2 separate regions of the Homo sapiens genome follow, and region 1 is linked to region 2. Evidence: fine-mapped expression QTL. Tissue or cell type: blood mononuclear cells. Region 2 holds a variant in brackets; the other region holds the start of a gene. All regions are shown on one strand. Distances are from middle to middle.

What was found. PIP is the estimated chance that this variant, and not a neighbour inherited with it, causes the effect.
Region 1: KIF1B starts here. The variant in region 2 is fine-mapped to the expression of KIF1B in blood mononuclear cells (TOPMed, PIP above 0.99). The same link has a PIP of 0.9 or more in T cells.

What each region holds. Positions count from the first base shown.
Region 1 is chr1:10,206,351-10,214,435 of GRCh38, reverse strand. It overlaps KIF1B (kinesin family member 1B), which reads right to left and starts at 3,866. Exons shown (of 49, transcript NM_001365951.3): 1 at 3,558-3,866. RefSeq lists an enhancer at 2,078-2,733 and silencers at 3,635-4,154, 4,185-4,264, 4,351-4,645.
Region 2 is chr1:10,379,640-10,387,740 of GRCh38, reverse strand. KIF1B (kinesin family member 1B) reads right to left here. Exons shown (of 49, transcript NM_001365951.3): 49 at 6,138-8,101. Among named protein-coding and RNA genes, the nearest start is that of PGD, 15 kb to the left of the region's middle. The variant G/A (reference allele first, on the strand shown) is at 4,943.

The DNA of each region.
Region 1 (8,085 bases), 170 kb after region 2:
TGCCTGTAATCCCAGCTACTTGGGAGGCTGAGGCAGGAGAATCATTTGAACCCGGGAGGCGGAGGTTGCAGTGAGCTGAGATCACACCAATGCACTCCAGCCTGGGTGACAGGGCGAGACTCTGTCTTAAAAAAAAAAAAGAAAGAAAGAAAGAAAGAAGTGGTAAAGTGTGAGTTCCTGGAAGGTAAAGAACTAAATCTCTACATGCACCCTCAGTTAATGGGTAATGCCTATAGTAAAAGAGCATCAATGAATCAGTGGCCCGTTAACCAAACAGTTCAACTCTGAGAAGTCCAAGGCATCTTTTTATTTTTAGCAGGCAAAGTCTGAGCCCAGAGTGGAGTGCAATGGCGCTGTCTTAGCTCACTGTAATCTCAAACTCAAGCCATCCTCCCCACTCAGCCTCCGAAGCACTAGGACTACAAACACACACCACCCACATCCAGATTTTTTTTTTTTTGGTAGAGATGGGGGTCCTGCTATGTTGTCCAAGCTTGTCTCAAACTCTTGATGTGAAGCAATCCTCCCGCCTCAGCCTCCCAAAGCACTGGGATTACAGATGTGAGCCACTGCATCCGGCCCAAGGCACCTTTTGCAGGTTTTTCCTACCACAGTCACATCTGTTTAATTTCTCTTCTATCCTGACAAGCTGCACAAAAAAAGTTCAAGAAGTATGCATATTTATTCACACTGTTTCACAGAATCCAGATATTCACCAGTACCTGTTCAAACGAGGCCATCTTTCAAAGAGAAATACATGAAATAGACATAAAATAACTTCAGAGCATTATGAAATTATATCATGTTAGTTTACAAGACCAAAAGGATATGCTTCCTCCTGGAAAAGATCTACTATGATTAGCAGCCTGGGAAGGGGATTACAAACAGGAAGGCAGGGGGCCCATTGTCCTTTACTTTGTACCCAGGACAAGACCACAGTGAGAAAATGGGCTAAAAAGCTTTGGCCTTAAGAAAGACTCCGTTGGCAGACTTTCTTGGACACTTATTCCCTGCACGAAATCAAAATGGGAAAGAAGAAAGAGAGAAAAAAGGAAAAGTGCATTCATATCTGGTCTTGAAAAGGAAAAACAGTCTGTTCTAAGCCTTAAAAGCTATACTTAATTGGATAAATTTTGGAAAAACACTCATCAGAGCAGAGCTACACATACTCATAAAACCTAGCCTCTGTATCAGATTCACAATCAGGTCTGATTTTACCAAATGCTGAAATTATTTTTAATCAAAAATATTCAGATCTTTATACTAATAAAGTAACTCTAAAAATTAAAAACTTAGAAATACTTCTAACTTAGGGCATGGAATTTCAAAACAGACATTCTGTATTTCTCTCATACTAGTGTAATGCAAAAAACACTAGTTTCTGTTGAAGTTACATTTGATTCAACAAGTTTTAAAACTAAAGCTTGATGACAAAAATAACAAAAAAATAGTGTTAAGACCTTGCTTAGCAAAAGCTATCCAAATTTTTTAAATGTGTGTGTGTATATATATATATATATATATATATATATATATATATATATACACACACGCATGCACACACACACATATATATATACACATTTTTTTTTTTAGCCAGGGTCTTGCTGTTGCCCAGGCTAGCCTCAAGCAATCCTCCCACCTCAGTCTCCCAAATAGCTGGGAATACAGGCATGAGCCACCATGCCCAGGTATTTATTTATTCATTTATTTTTGTAGAGACAGAGTCCCACTCTGTTGCCCAGGGTGGTCTCGAACTCCTGAGCTCAAGGGATCCTCCTGTCTCAGCCTCCCAAAGTGTTGGGATTACAAGGCATGAGCCACCACACCCATCCCAAAATTTTTTACATAGTTCAACCTGAGAAGTTATGAGAATGTATTTATGAACAAATTGAACTTGAATGAAAGCAAAGGCCACAAAGAAGAAAGCAGGCATGCCATCTCTCCAGGTCCTGTCCACATCTAGGATATAGAAAAGAACAGATCTACAGACTCATGCTGAACCCAGTTATTGATCATCTCCAGACCTGCTTTACAATACCAACCTATGTGTAATTCTCATATTCCACCTTCAAACAATACATTAACAACACTTGCTCTATAATCCAGCAACCATATCAACTTAATCAGAAAGCACCACCTCACTTCTTAGAGGAACACAAGAACTAGATTTTGTTATGACTAAACTAAGGAGACAAAATGCCAGCCTTTAAATAAAATATCCACCATGATATCACCTCTTAAGAGTTATTCAAATCTCATCAGCACACTTTCATCAGGCTCAGACAGGCACATCATGACACAAAGCGGAATGTTCAATGGTGGCAGAACAGCTGCTCAGAGCAGTAAGAGATATGAGCAAGGGATCTGTTGACAATCTAATTTCAGCTACCTCGAGATTCCACAAAGATGACAGCCTGCGTCCTCAGAAATGCCGCCACTAGCCTCGCCCACTATCAGAATACTCTGGTTTACTTCTTCTCTGCAAGTCGAGCGACTCTGAAAATCTATCCATCCAATGCTCTACGGCTACTCGAGGCCTCCATACTGATACAGTGGCCTTAGCAATTCTCAGATCGGCCTATGCACATGTAAAGCATCAGCAGGCCTTTCACAGCCCCCGCACTGGACGCAGAAGATGAATAGAGAAACACGGAATTTCACCCCAACAAGAATGGAATCTTGAAGGCAGTTTACCTTGGAAGCTCATTTAGCAATCAAGGAAAAAAAAAAAAAGGGATCTGGAAGCTCCATTCTGGCGTTAGGGGCGGGAATGTTTTGTGTTGCATGAACAATGACTAGCTTGCTCAAGCAGCCTCCCAACCCCCACAACTTGGCTTCTGGTCTGGCCAGTCACCCTGAAAGCTGCCAGGGCTGTCACTCGGTGCCTTCCAACAACTGGACTTGGCTCCTAAAGGATTTGTCAGATCATCCTCCCAATATGGCTGCCCGAGTAATCCCAGTCGGCTGAATGCCGAGACCACACCAGCCTTCCTCACACCTGGCCAGCATCCAACAAGCCCCCTCCCTTCCTATCGCACCCCTCTTTCCAGGCCTCGAGCCCTCGGCTCCCCCAGCGCCAAGCGATGACCTTTCCTATCGCCATCTGGCAAAGGGCATAACCACATTCCCAGCCGAAGCCCGATGCCCACCACAAAGGAGGAAAGGGGAGAGGGAAAATGAGAAACGATGGCTTCAAACGAAGCACAGCCGCCCCCCGGGCTGCAACGTGCGCGGAGCCCAGGGAACGGCCAGGCAGCGGCGGGTCTGGAGAGCGCTGGGCACAGCCGGGGCCTGGCAGCGCGGGGGAAACGGAGGGCCGGTGCAGGGCACTGCGGGGGCCCCAGCCGACCGCTGGACGCCGGCCCGGGACTCGCTGCTGGCCTAGGGAGGGGTCCCCTCCCCCGAGGGCGAGGCTCCCGCACCCGGCGCCCGTCCCGCGCTACCTCCCCTCAGACCCCGCCCGGACCCCGGCCCGGCCGCTCCTCCCCGCGGAAGCGGCCCCCTCCCCAACCCCGCGACCGCGGCGCCAACCGCGGCCAGCCCCGCCGCCTTACCTCAGCCGCGCTGCAGACCGACGGGCGGACCGGGTCAACAGGAGCCGCGGCGCGCGGGGGCGCGGGGGGCCGGGCACCGACGCACCTCAGCGCGAGCAGCGGCCGCCGCGAGCCGCAGGGCGCCGCTCCGCAGCCCCATCACGCAGCAGCCCGGCACCGCATCGAGGTGGGAGGTGGGCGGTGGGCGGCGGACAGGAGTGCGCGAGTGCGGGAGGCCAGGGCGCGGCGACGGCCGGCGGTGACGGCTGCGGAGGACGGGGAGCTGCTCCGACGCGCGCGGGCGCCTCCCAGGACCGCTGCCGTCACACTGCCCCGCTTCGGCCCTCGCGAAACTCCGCCCGCAGTCGCCGGCGCGGGACACCGCCCCGAGCTGGGCCTCTGCGCGTCACCTCGTATCCGCCCCGGCGCCCGCGACGGACACGGGCTGTGACCAATCACAGCACAGAGCTCGGGGCGGCCAGCCAATCGTAGGGTGAGCCGGGGAGTGGGGCTGCTGCGGGGGGCTGCAGGAACATCGAGCGCCCCCTGGTGGCCCTCGGGCCGGCTCAACCAGGGGTGCGGGCTGGCCAAAGCCGGAGCCCGGAGTTCCCTCCCGGGTGACCCCCAAGGGCATTCGTCGGAATCAGCCGCCCCCAGCCACCCCGATAATCCGCCTTATACGGGGACAAAAGATTGACTGAGTGGAGCGGGGCGGGGCCCAGGGGTCCTGACGCCCGCAGAGGAGCTGGGATCAACATGGGAGGCGCCGAGAGTGGAATCATTGTCCGTCGGAAAACATCTCGCAGGCGGAACCGGCCGAACGCGGCGCGGTGGGAGCGGAACCCCGAGAGGGGATGAGCGCATCCCGCGGGAAGCTGCCTGGCCTATTCTTACAGAACCCGAGCAAAACACCTCCCACGCGCCACCTCGGGAGAGAAGGCGGAATGAGTAATGGAAAAGCATGACTTGGTGGGCATTCCACTTGTCTCCTTGGGAGACCGCGGAAGGGCTGTGAGGAGAGGAACAAACGCTTTGCACCGTCCCTGAGTTAACGAGCCCAGCCCCCTTCTGGGAGATGCCCTTGAAGGAGGGAGAGTGGAAGTTAGAAACCCGGAGGACACAAAAGCACGAGCAGTGATTTCTTTAAAATCAGATTTAGATTCAGCTGGAAAGAAAAATCTCACTGTTCAGAAACTGTTCAATTCAGTACTTAACAAAATATAATCTTCAGTGATAATATATTCAATTATCAGGCCCAGGCCGAGCACTATTACTTTATAAGGTTGTGAATTATTTTTATTTACTAGCAGACATTGAAAGTAAAATCACATGTCTTCCCCTGAATTAAATACAGTATTATTGTGAGTAAAAGGTATTATGTACAAGCATATGCACTAAAACATCGAAATTAATTTTCTACACTAATAATTCTGGAAAATCTCCACCACCACTCAAGTCCTCAGACTCTTCATCCGCTTTTATTGATCACGTCTCATTTTATAGAATTTAAGCTCCACCTACCTGCAAAAGGATTTGACATAGCTTACACTAAAGCATACAGCAGTGAAACCGTATAGCTTTAAAATAGGCGTAAAATTCATAATAATGAAACAAGCAAGAGACTTTTTAAAAGCTGTTTGAATGAGAGGCATGCCTAGAAAGAAAAATTTTTTTGTTTTGTTTTGAGACAGAGTTTTACTCTCGCCCAGGCTGAGCTCAGTGGCACGATGTCAAATCTCTGCAACCTCCGCCTCCCAGGTTCAAGCGATTCTCCTGCCTCAGCCTCCCGAGTAGCTGGGATTACAGGTGCCTGCCACCACGCCCGGCTAATTTTTGTATTTTTAGTAGAGACGGTGTTTCACTATGTTGGTCAGGTTGGTCTTGAACTCCTGACCTCAGGTGATCCACCTGTCTCAGCCTCTCAAAGTGCTGGGATTACAGGAATGAGCCACCGCGCCCGGCCAGAAAAACAATATTTTAAAAATCCATAGTCAAGGAAATATGTTGCCACTGAGCACAGAACTCAGCTCTTAGCTTCCTGACGGCTAAGAGTAAAATGAAACTATAGTAGGTTAATAAAGAGGAACTCATCAATTCAACAGTAGACACCACTTCATCATAGCGTGGACCTCCTTGCGTAAATACTGTGGTGAGCGCCATGGAGAGTTACGAAAACCTGGGTGGCTGTATTGCTTGAGCTCTCAATGGAGCACAATCTAAAAAGAATCTAAAACGTAGTGAAGAACCAGGCGCGGTGGCTCACGACAGTAATCCCAACACTTTGGGAGGCTGAGGCGGGTGGATCACTTGAGGTCAGGAGTTCGAGACCAGCCTGACCAACATGGCAAAACCCCATCTCTACTAAAAAATACAAAAATTAGCCAGGCGTGGTGGGCACGCCTGTAATACCAGCTACTTGGGAACCTGAGGCAGGAGAATCACTTGAACCCGGGAGGTGGACGAGGCGGCAGTTGCAGTGAGCTGAGATCCTACCACTGAACTCCAGCCTGGGAGATAGAGTGAGACTCTGTCTCAACAAAAAATAAAATAAAATTTAAAACAAAAACGTAGTGAAGAGGGTGTGATTGTGATTGGCAGGAGAAGAAGCTAGCCAAAGGGCACACAGAAGGCACAGAAGGGTCAATAAAGGCAAAGAAGGCTGCTCCAGGATCCAAGGCCAAACAGCCCACTCTGCATAAGCCTTTTGCCTCTCTGACAGATGAAGTCACACTGCCCAGCCAGTTTCTCAGATTACAAATTCTGTATAAAAGCATCTCTTTAAAATGATAAATAAATTACTAGAAAATTGAATGTAGCCATGATCTGGTAGGGCTGTCTCTGGAATGCAAGGATACGAGAACATCAGAAGTCCTAGTCACGTGGTGCACTGCCACTCTCCCATCACAATCACAATCACAATCAGGTTTCTGGATACAAAATCAATACACAAAAATCCGAAGTGTTCCTTTTTGATAGGAAGACTTTATTATTACTATTATTTTAGACAGGGTCTCACTCTGTCACCCAGGCTGGAGTGCAGTGGTGTGATCACAGCTTACTACAGCCTCAACCCTTGCCCCCTGGTTTAATCCATCCTCCCACCTCAGCCTCCTGAGTAGGTGGCACTATAGGCACACACCACCACGCCCAGCTAATTTTTCTATTTTTTGTAGAGACGGCTGGTATCCAGCTCCTGGACTCCAGTGATCCATCAACCTCAGCCTCCCAAAGTGCTGGGACTACAGGTGTGAGCCACTGAGCCTGGCCTTTATTGCTATTTTTAATGGGATCTTTTTAAAAAATCAAGTCTTCCCGGCCAGGTGCTGTGGCCCACGCCTGTAATCCCAGTACTTTGGGAGGCAGAGTAGGCTGATCGCTTGAGCCTAGGAGTTTGAGACAAGCCTAGGCAACATAACGAGACCCTATCTCTACAAAAAATACAAAAAAAAAAAAAAAAGTAGCCAGACATGGTGGTATGTACCTGTAGTCCCAGCTGCTTGGGAGGCTGAGTGGGAAGATCAATTGAGCCTGGAAGGTCAAGGCTACAGTGAGCTATGATTGCACCACAGCACTCGAGCCTCAATGACAGAGTGAGATCCTGTCTCAAAAAAAAAAAGAAAGAAAGAAAAAAAGCAATAAAAGCTATTCAATATTTAAGAATAAATGCACCTGTAATCCCAGCACTTTGGGAGGCCCAGGTGGGTGAATCACTTGAGGTAAGGAGTTCGAGACCAGCCTAGCCAACATGGTGAAACACAGTCTCTACTAAAAATACAAAAAATTAGCCAGATGTGGTGGTACATGCCTGTAATCCCAGCTACTCGGGAGGCTGAGGCAGGAGAATGGCGTGAACCCAGGAGGTGGAGCTTGCAGTGAGCCGAGATCTCACCACTGCAGTCCAGCCTGGGTGACAGAGCGAGACTCTGTCTCAAAAAAAAAAAAAAAAAGGTGCAGGATAATAGGTGCGGGACAGTGGCATTTATACATAAAGTCTGAAGTATGAATATGAGCACTATACTGTTTAGGACTAAATTTATGTATAGTCAAGTGTGAAAACATGGATGGCAATGACAATCATCAAATTCAGGATGAGATTAACCCAGGAAAGAAAGAGAGAAAAACAAAACAAACAAACAAAAAAAGGGAGGATGACATGAGGATCTGCAACTTTATGTGTAATATTTTATTTCTTGAAAAACAAAATAACAGGAAGATGGAAATGTTGAGTTGGGAGGAAAAACCAGAGAATTTATTGATTTGTCTTGAACTCCTTATTGTTATTATTATTTTTTGTTTGTTTTTTGAGATGGAGTCTCGTTCTGTCGCCCAGGCTGGAGTTCGGAGGTGCTATTTCTGCCGTTGATGATTTTCCGCCTTCCATTTTCTTCTCTGGAAATGTCTATTATTGATTGATTGATTGACCGATTAATTGATTTAGAGACAGAGTCTCCCCTTCTCACCCAGGCTGGAGTGCAGTGACTCGATCTCGGCTCACTGCAACCTCTGCCCCCCAGGTTCAAGCGGAGCGATTCTCCTGTCTCAGCCTCCC
Region 2 (8,101 bases):
ATCCTAGTTTGATTTACGTAAGAGGGTGTGTAAAGCAACATACCAGTAAGGGCAGATTTGAAAATCCCAGCTCTGACACTCACTCAACTAAATAATTCTCGTAGCTGAACTCAAACTGAACTCAAATGACCTGAATATATTTTAGGTGGAAAGAGTACTTTTTTTTTTTTTGAGACGTGGTCTTGCCCTGTTGCCTGGGCTAGGCTGGAACTCCTGGGCTCAGAGGAGCTTGCATGAAATGATGCCTTTCATTTACAGGCACATGCCACTATGCCCAGCTCCTTTTTTTTTTTTTTTTTTTTTTTGAGACAGGGTCTTGCTTTGTTACCCAGGCGCCAGTGGCACCATCATAGCTCACTGCAGTCTCAAACTCCTGGGCTCAAGGGATCCTCCCATCTCAGCTTCCTGAGTAGCTGAGGCTACAGGTGTGTACCACCATGCCCAGTTAATTGTTTTTATTTTTTGTAGAAATGGGGGCTCACTAAGTTGCCCAGGCTGGTTTTGAGCTCTGGCTTCAAGTGATCCTCCTGCCACGGCCTCTCAAAGTGCTGGGATTACAGGTGTAAGCCACCATGCCTGCTCCCCCCGCCTTTTTTTTTTTTTTTTTTTTTTTTTAAAGAAACAGGTTCTTGCTTTGTTGCCCATGCTGGCCTTGAACTGCTGGACTCAAGCAATCATTCCACGTTAGCTTCCAGAGTAGCAGAAGGAGCAATTCTGAAAAAGCCCAGAGGCTATATATTCTCACCCCAGAGGAGTATGCTTGTGATGTGCTCAGAATAGCTAAAATGGTCTGTGCAGGGACAAGAGTTCCTAAGGGAAAGTGGAATATCTCCCCATCCAACCGCAAGTGGAATAACAAGAAGAACCAGATAGAAAAGCAGCGCACGAGCCCGGGCCAGGCGCAGTGGCCCACACCTGTAATCCCAGCACTTTGGGAGGCCGAGGTGGGCAGATCACAAGGTCAGGAGATCAAGACCATCCTGGCTAACACGGTGAAACCCTGTCTCTACTAAGAAATACAAAAAATTAGCCAGGCGTGGTGGCGGGCGCCTGTAGTCCCAGCTACTCAGGAAGCTGAGGCAGGAGAATGGCGTGAACCCAGGAGGCGGAGCTTGCAGTGAGCCGAGATTGTGCCACTGCACTCCAGCCTGGGCGACGGAGCAAGACTCCGTCTCAAAACAACAACAACAAAAGAAAAGCAGCGCACCAGACTCATGCATGCTTCCATGGGTCACCTGACTTCCCAAACTATCAGCTTTGCAAGAGACATGGGGATTTACTAAGCGTGCAACCCTAGTGAGGATTCAATCCTACATGCTCCTGGGTGAGGTCTAGTTGAGGGCACAACCAGCATAATATGCACTGATTCGGGGATGATCTCCCATTTTAAACTGCAAGTCCAGTTTCAGGAAGACGTGGCCTGACATAAGCCCTAGAGCTGACATTAACTAACTTTTTTTTTTTTTTTTTTTTTGAGACAAAAATCTCGCTCTGTAGCCCAGGCTGGAGTGCAATGGTGTGATCCCGGCTCACCGCAACCTCTGCCTCCCGGGTTCAAGTGATTCTCCAGCCTCAGCCTCCCGAGTAGCTGGGATTACAGGTACCCACCACCATGCCCAGCTAATTTTTGTATTTTTAGTAGAGACAGGGTTTCACCATGTTGGCCAGGCTGGTTTTGAACTCCTGAGCTCAGGTGATCCACCCGCCTTAGCCTCCCAAAGTGCTGGGATTACAGGCATGAGCCACCACGCCCAGCCAGACATTAACTTAAGACTGAAGAGTCCTAGCAATCCAGAGACTTGCAGTGTTCCTATCACTGAGCTGTCGGCAGCACTGTGGATATAAGCCAGGGTGCTCAGTTGGATCTAGGACCTACCTCTCTGCTGTGCACTGGCCCCCAGTCCCTCAGGCCCACTCCACAACTCTCTCCACCTCACTGTCTTCCCCACTGCCAGGTTTTCCCTCCCAGTTCATTTTTTCCAATTAGTACATGCACAAGCTATGCTATTTCCCTTCTTTAAAACAAAAGCCTCTCCTTTACCCCATATCCCCTTCCAGTTACTCCATTTGTCTTTTCCCTTTTACAGAAAAATCTATGAAAGAATTGTTTGTACTGTTTCACCCTCCTCTCCTCCCACTTTCCCTAGAACCTACTCCAATTAGGCACCACTCAAACAAATGCTCCCCTCACCAATGACCTTGCTAGTGTAGAAGCACTCCTGATGCCTCCCTCCATGAGAAGTGAGCCCCATTACTAGAATGTTCCTGTGAGTCTGGAAGGAGCGGTTAGGCATAGACTGCCTGGCCACTTCCTCCCTCTCTCTCAGAACCTCGGCTGCCTTCAGGGGACATATGCGCTGCGTTCCTCTTAACTTCTGCTACTCAAAGAGTGATCCCCACAATGGCAATACTGACATCACTTGGAAGCTTATTAGAAAAGCAGAATCTCAGGCTCCACCCAAGCCCTACTCAATCAGAACCTGCATTTTAGTACGATCCCCAGGGGATTCTGGTGCACAATAAAGTTCAAGAAGCACTGCTCTAAACCGCCTCATTCTGAGGTTCAGCCTTACAAAATAAATCCAGGCCGGGCGCGGTGGCTCACGCCTGTAATTCCAGCACTTTGGGAGGCTGAGGCGGGCAGACCATGAGGTCAGGAGATCGAGACCATCCTGGCTAACATGGTGAAGCCCCGTCTCTACTAAAAATACAAAAAAAAAAATTAGCCGGGCGCGGTGGCGGGTGCCTGTAGTCCCAGCTACTGGGGAGGCTGAGGCAGGAGAATGGTGTGAATCTGGGAGGCGGAGCTTGCAGTGAGCCAAGATGACACCACTGCACTCCAGCCTGGGCGACAGAGCGAGATGCCATCACAAAAAAAAAAGAAAAGAAAAGAAATCCAGTGTTCCCAGATGTAACCACATTTTCTAACAGCAGTTTTATCAGTAATAAGGGTGGTATTTTGGTCTCCCATCTCCCATCGTCTTATTTTTTGTTTCTTAATTGGTTCTGAAATTGGGAAAAATTAGGGTATCCCCTGGCTCCCTCGGACTTCTTACACCTTTCAGTTAACAAAACCTGTGGTCCCTGCTCAGTCCTTCCTGTAACCTATTGGCTGCCCTGGACAAAGCAACCACTTCCTCAGTCTTCCACACTCTCCCTCCACGGCCACTGCTTGTCCTCCTGGCTGGACTCCTCTCTCTTCCTGACCTCCATGTGTTGGAGCGCACCAAGCTCCAAGATCAGTCCTTGGTTCCTGTCAGCCACACACACGCTCCAGGTCTCCTTCCCTGCCTGAGGCTCGATCTGCTATCTTCATGCCGCCAACTCCCAAATGTGTGTCTCCAGCTCCAACCACTCCCCTTGAATCCCGCTAGTCCAGCCAACTGTTTTGTTGACTATACACTTAGGTGCATGTGTTGGCATCTGAAAGTGAACATGACTCAAATCAAATTATTATTATTATTTTGAGACAGTTTCGCTCTCTGTTGCTCAGGCTGGAGTGCAGTGGCGTGATCTCAGATCACTGCAACCTCTGCCTCCTGGGTCCAAGCGGTTCTCCTGTCTCAGCCTCCCAAATAGCTGGGATTACAGGCGCCTGCCACCACGCCCCGCTAATTTTTGTATTTTTAGTAGAGACGGGGTTTCACCATGTTGGCCAGGCTGGCCTCAAACTCCTGACCTCAGGTGATCTGCCCGCCTCGGCCTCCCAAAGTGCTATTTTCTTAACAGTCAGGGTCTCAACTCTGTTGACCAGGCTGGAGTGCAGTGGCAAGATCACAGCTCACTGCAGCTTCCAACTCCTGGGCTCAAGCGATCCTTCTGCCTTAGTCTCCTGGGTATCTGGCACTACTGGCGTGCACCATCATGCCCAGCTAATTTTTAATTGTTTGTAGAGATGGGGTCTCACTACATTGCCCAGGCTGGTCGGTCTCGAAGTCTTGGGCTCCAGTGATCCTCCCACCTTGGCTTCCCAAAGTGCTGGGATTACAGGCATGACCATTCTCAGCTTTTGTTCTACCAATTGTCTTCACCTTAGAAAACTGCAATGCTGTTCTTTTACTCAGGCACTTACCCTTTTAGTTACTTTTCTCCTTTCTCTCCAACAACTCTGCATGAAGTCTCTCAGAAAACTGTTCTAACTTCAAAATGTACCTTGAATCTGCCCATTTCGTCCCACCTATACTCTACTACCTTAGTCTGAGCCACCGTCTCCTCCCCTGGAATACTGGGGTAACAATCTTATTTTGCCCCTTTTTTCCACTTGTCCCTGCCTGAGTACAAAGACTGTTTTCCAGAATGGTCTTTTAAAAATGTAAATAAGCCCCTGTGACTCCTCTGCTCCAAAGCCTTCAATGGCTTCCCATTCACTCTAATGAAATTCCAAGTCCTCACCTAAGCCCTAAATATCCTGGTCCCTGGCTACTTTCTGATGTCTTCTATTGCGCTCCCAGTCCCTGACTCTGTACCAGCGACCTTGCTATTTCTGGAACCTACTGAGGACACTGCTGCCTCAAGGGCTTCATTTCTCTACTTGGAGACCTCTTTGCCCAGGGGTTTGCATGGCTTACCCTATCCTTTCATTCTAGAGTCTGCTCAAATGTGATCTCCGAAGAGAGGCCTTCCCTGACTATGCCATCTAAACATCCCTCGTTCCCATCCCTCTTTCATCCTTTTATTTAGCTGCTTTCCTCCAAAATACTTAGGACCGATGTTGTAAATTTGTTTAAACATTGTCTTCCCCACTGGAATGGGAGGGCACAAGTGCATGGGCTTGCTTTGTTGGCTGCTGAATTACTGCACCCAGCAGCACACCAGGCACAGGGTGGGTACTCAAATATTGGTTGGAACAAATCATTGCTTTTAACCTGAGGGCTGCTCCTCCCTCCCTTCTTCTGTTTCTCCCCAAACACCCAGGACAGTGGCCCCTGCTCATGCTCTGCTC[G/A]TGATGAGGGCTTGTTAAATTAAATTGACATGTTCAACTTTTCAAATCCCCATTTACCCTTCCCCACCCAAAAAAACCCAACATGGCCAGGCACGGTGGCTCACGCCTGTAATCCCAGCACTTTGGGAGGCCGAGGTGGGCGGATCACCTGAGGTCAGGAGTTTGAGACCAGTCTGGCCAATGTGCTGAAACCCCGTCTCTACTAAAAATATTTTTAAAAATTAGCCAGGTGTGGTGGCGGGCACCTGTAATTGCAACTACCTGGGAGGCTGAGGAAAGAGAATTGTTTGAACTGGGGAGGCAGAGGTTGCAGTGAGCTGAGATGGTGCCATTGCACACCAGCATGGGTGACAAGAGTCAAACTCCATCTCAAAAAAATAATTATAGGTTGGGCACGGTGGCTCAAGCCTGTAATCCTAGCACTTTGGGAGGCTGAGGCGGGTGGATCACAAGGTCAGGAGCTTGAGACCAGCCTGGCCAACACAGTGAAACCCCTCTCTACTAAAAATAAAATCAGCCAGGCGTGATGGATGCCTGTAATCCCAGCTACTTGGGAGGCTGAGGCAGGGAGAATCGCTTGAACCCGGGAGGTGGAAAGTTGCAGTGAGCCGAGATCATGCCACTGTACTCCAGCCTGGACGACAGAGTGAGACTCCATCTCAAAATAAATAAATAAATAAATAAAATAATAATAATAATAATAATAATAATAATACAAAAATTAGCCACGCATGGTGGCGCACGCCTGTAATCCCAGCTACTCAGGAGTCTGAGGCAGGAGAATCGCTTGAACCCAGGAGGCAGAGGTTGCAGTGACCCGAGATCACATCACTGCACTCCAGCATGGGTGACAGAGCAAGACTCTGTCTCAAAAAGAAAAAAAAAAAAAAAAAGAAGCCAACACAACACTACAGAATTATTGGAAGGCATACAAGGAGGCTTCAGGAGAAAAACAACAAATCTTCTAGCTAAAATAACCACTTACATCTTTGGGAGAAAAGTACTTTCAAAGAAACAGCACCATATTAGCTTTCTTGGTTATATAAAAACCACGATTTTGAATATCAGAAAGGAATACTTAAGCGATGATATCGTGACTTCTGTCTTAGAAAGGTATTATCTTTGCAAATCAAGAAAAGAAATCTTTGTGCAATTACCTTTCAAGGGGTGCAAGAATAAATGCACATCGAGAACCTTCTGATGCACTGGCTGTACCTTTATTATTTTTACCTCGTTCACTAACAGCTCCGTGACGCAAGGTTACCACACACAGTTAGATAGTGTCTGCATTGCACATCTAAGGCTATACAGCAAAAGAATCAGAATTAGTACAAATACAAGAACTATATTTACAGTCTGTATACTCAAGCTCCAAACATCAGATAATATTTACAAAATAAAACATGAAAATGAAAATCCAAAATTAATGTACATTGTTGCTAATGTGCTCAACTCCTTCACGGGGGAGAGATCAGTTTGCAAAGTCTTGGTTCAAAAAGGCCACTTATGCATTATGGGTTTTGTTGTCATGTGTGAGGATGGTGACAAGAGACTTGAAATCTCAACAGACAGGTACTTTAGAGCCACAAAGTCTAAGACGATGCCTTAAATACAAGAAGGCTGAGGGACTCCTCAAGTGAGCTGATGCCAGAATAGGCAGAATGAAAAAAAATGAACTCGAAGACATGAAGAACAACACACAACAGCCACGGTTTGGCAAGAGACCAACCTCAGCTCAGACTTTCCATCTGAGCACAGCCGTTTGGCTATGAGCTTTTTACTGAATTTTATAGCAACTCTGATTTCTTCCTTTAAATGATTGGAGGCTTTTTAAAGATCTTATGGGGCTCAAATACTAACTTCATAAATGGCCTTTTGAATAACAGCAGCAAATAATCTCTCAGCTGATATTTCAATTTACTAAGGAAGCACAAATTAAAACATTCCTGCTACACAGTCATGGTCTGGCCACACACTGGGGTGAATCACTGGCCCTGGTGAACAACTGTAGTGCACACAAGTTAGAGTCCTATGTAAACACATCCAGCAAACCTTCTGGGAGCAGCAGCATCATGAATCTTTTCTTTTTTTTTGAGACGGAGTCCTGCTTTGTCACCCAGGCTGGAGTGCAATGGTGCAGTCTCAACTCACTGCAGCCTCCACCTCCCAGGTTCAAGCTATTCTCCTGCCTCAGCCTCCCAAGTAGCTGGGACTACAGGCACACGCCACCACGCCTGGCTACTTTTTGTATTTTTAGTAGAGACGGGGTTTCACCATGTTGGCCAGGCTGGTCTCAAACTTCTGACCTCAGGTGATCCACCTGCCTTGGCCTCCCAATGTGCTGGGATTACAGGCGTGAGCCACCACACCCGGTTGAATCTTTCAAGAGGCAGGTTAACAATCACATTTTTAAAAGGGAACCGAAAGGAAAACTGAAAGACCTAAGTCAAACAAGCCCTGATACTGTCCATTGGAACCCGAGCGGGACACAGCACGAGGGAAATGCAGAAAGAGTACCGATGAGTGTGCACACTGGAGAATCCTTTCTCTCCAATCCACTGTGCAAGTAAGTATAGCTGGATAAATATACATAGACCTGACAAAATTAAATATCCCTGTAAATTAGACAATAAGCAGCAGGCAACAAAGTCTTTGCTTTGGAATATGTGCCAGGAAAAGTCATCTTGTTTTTAGATCTCAAGAGACAGTTCACAATGACTTAGTTCCTTCATCTGAAATGAGCTGAAAAATCCATAAAAAATAGGAGAGTTGTCTGAAGTCTATGTGACTGAAGGGAAAAAATATATAATAGTGGTTTCTTAGTTGGGAAACTCACTCCATTGCCCCTTGCCGTCAGCACGTTTAACAACGAGCTGGGGCTCAGGTGCCCGGCCACTGCCACAAGCACCCCTTGCCTGTGCTCCTGACTAGCGCATGGGCTGGCTGGCCCTGCACAGTCCTGGCCTGAGCGCTGACTGACTCCCAGGAGGGCACACAGACACAGAGAGGGTCTGAGCACTGATTTGGGGCTGGTGGTGAGGCCATATTTTGCTTTGATGGGAGAAAGGAGGATGAGAGACAGAGGAGGAGGTGATTAGTATTAACTAGCACTTATTTCTCTGAATTTGCCTAAGAATTCTCTTTCCTGCCTTTTAAAGT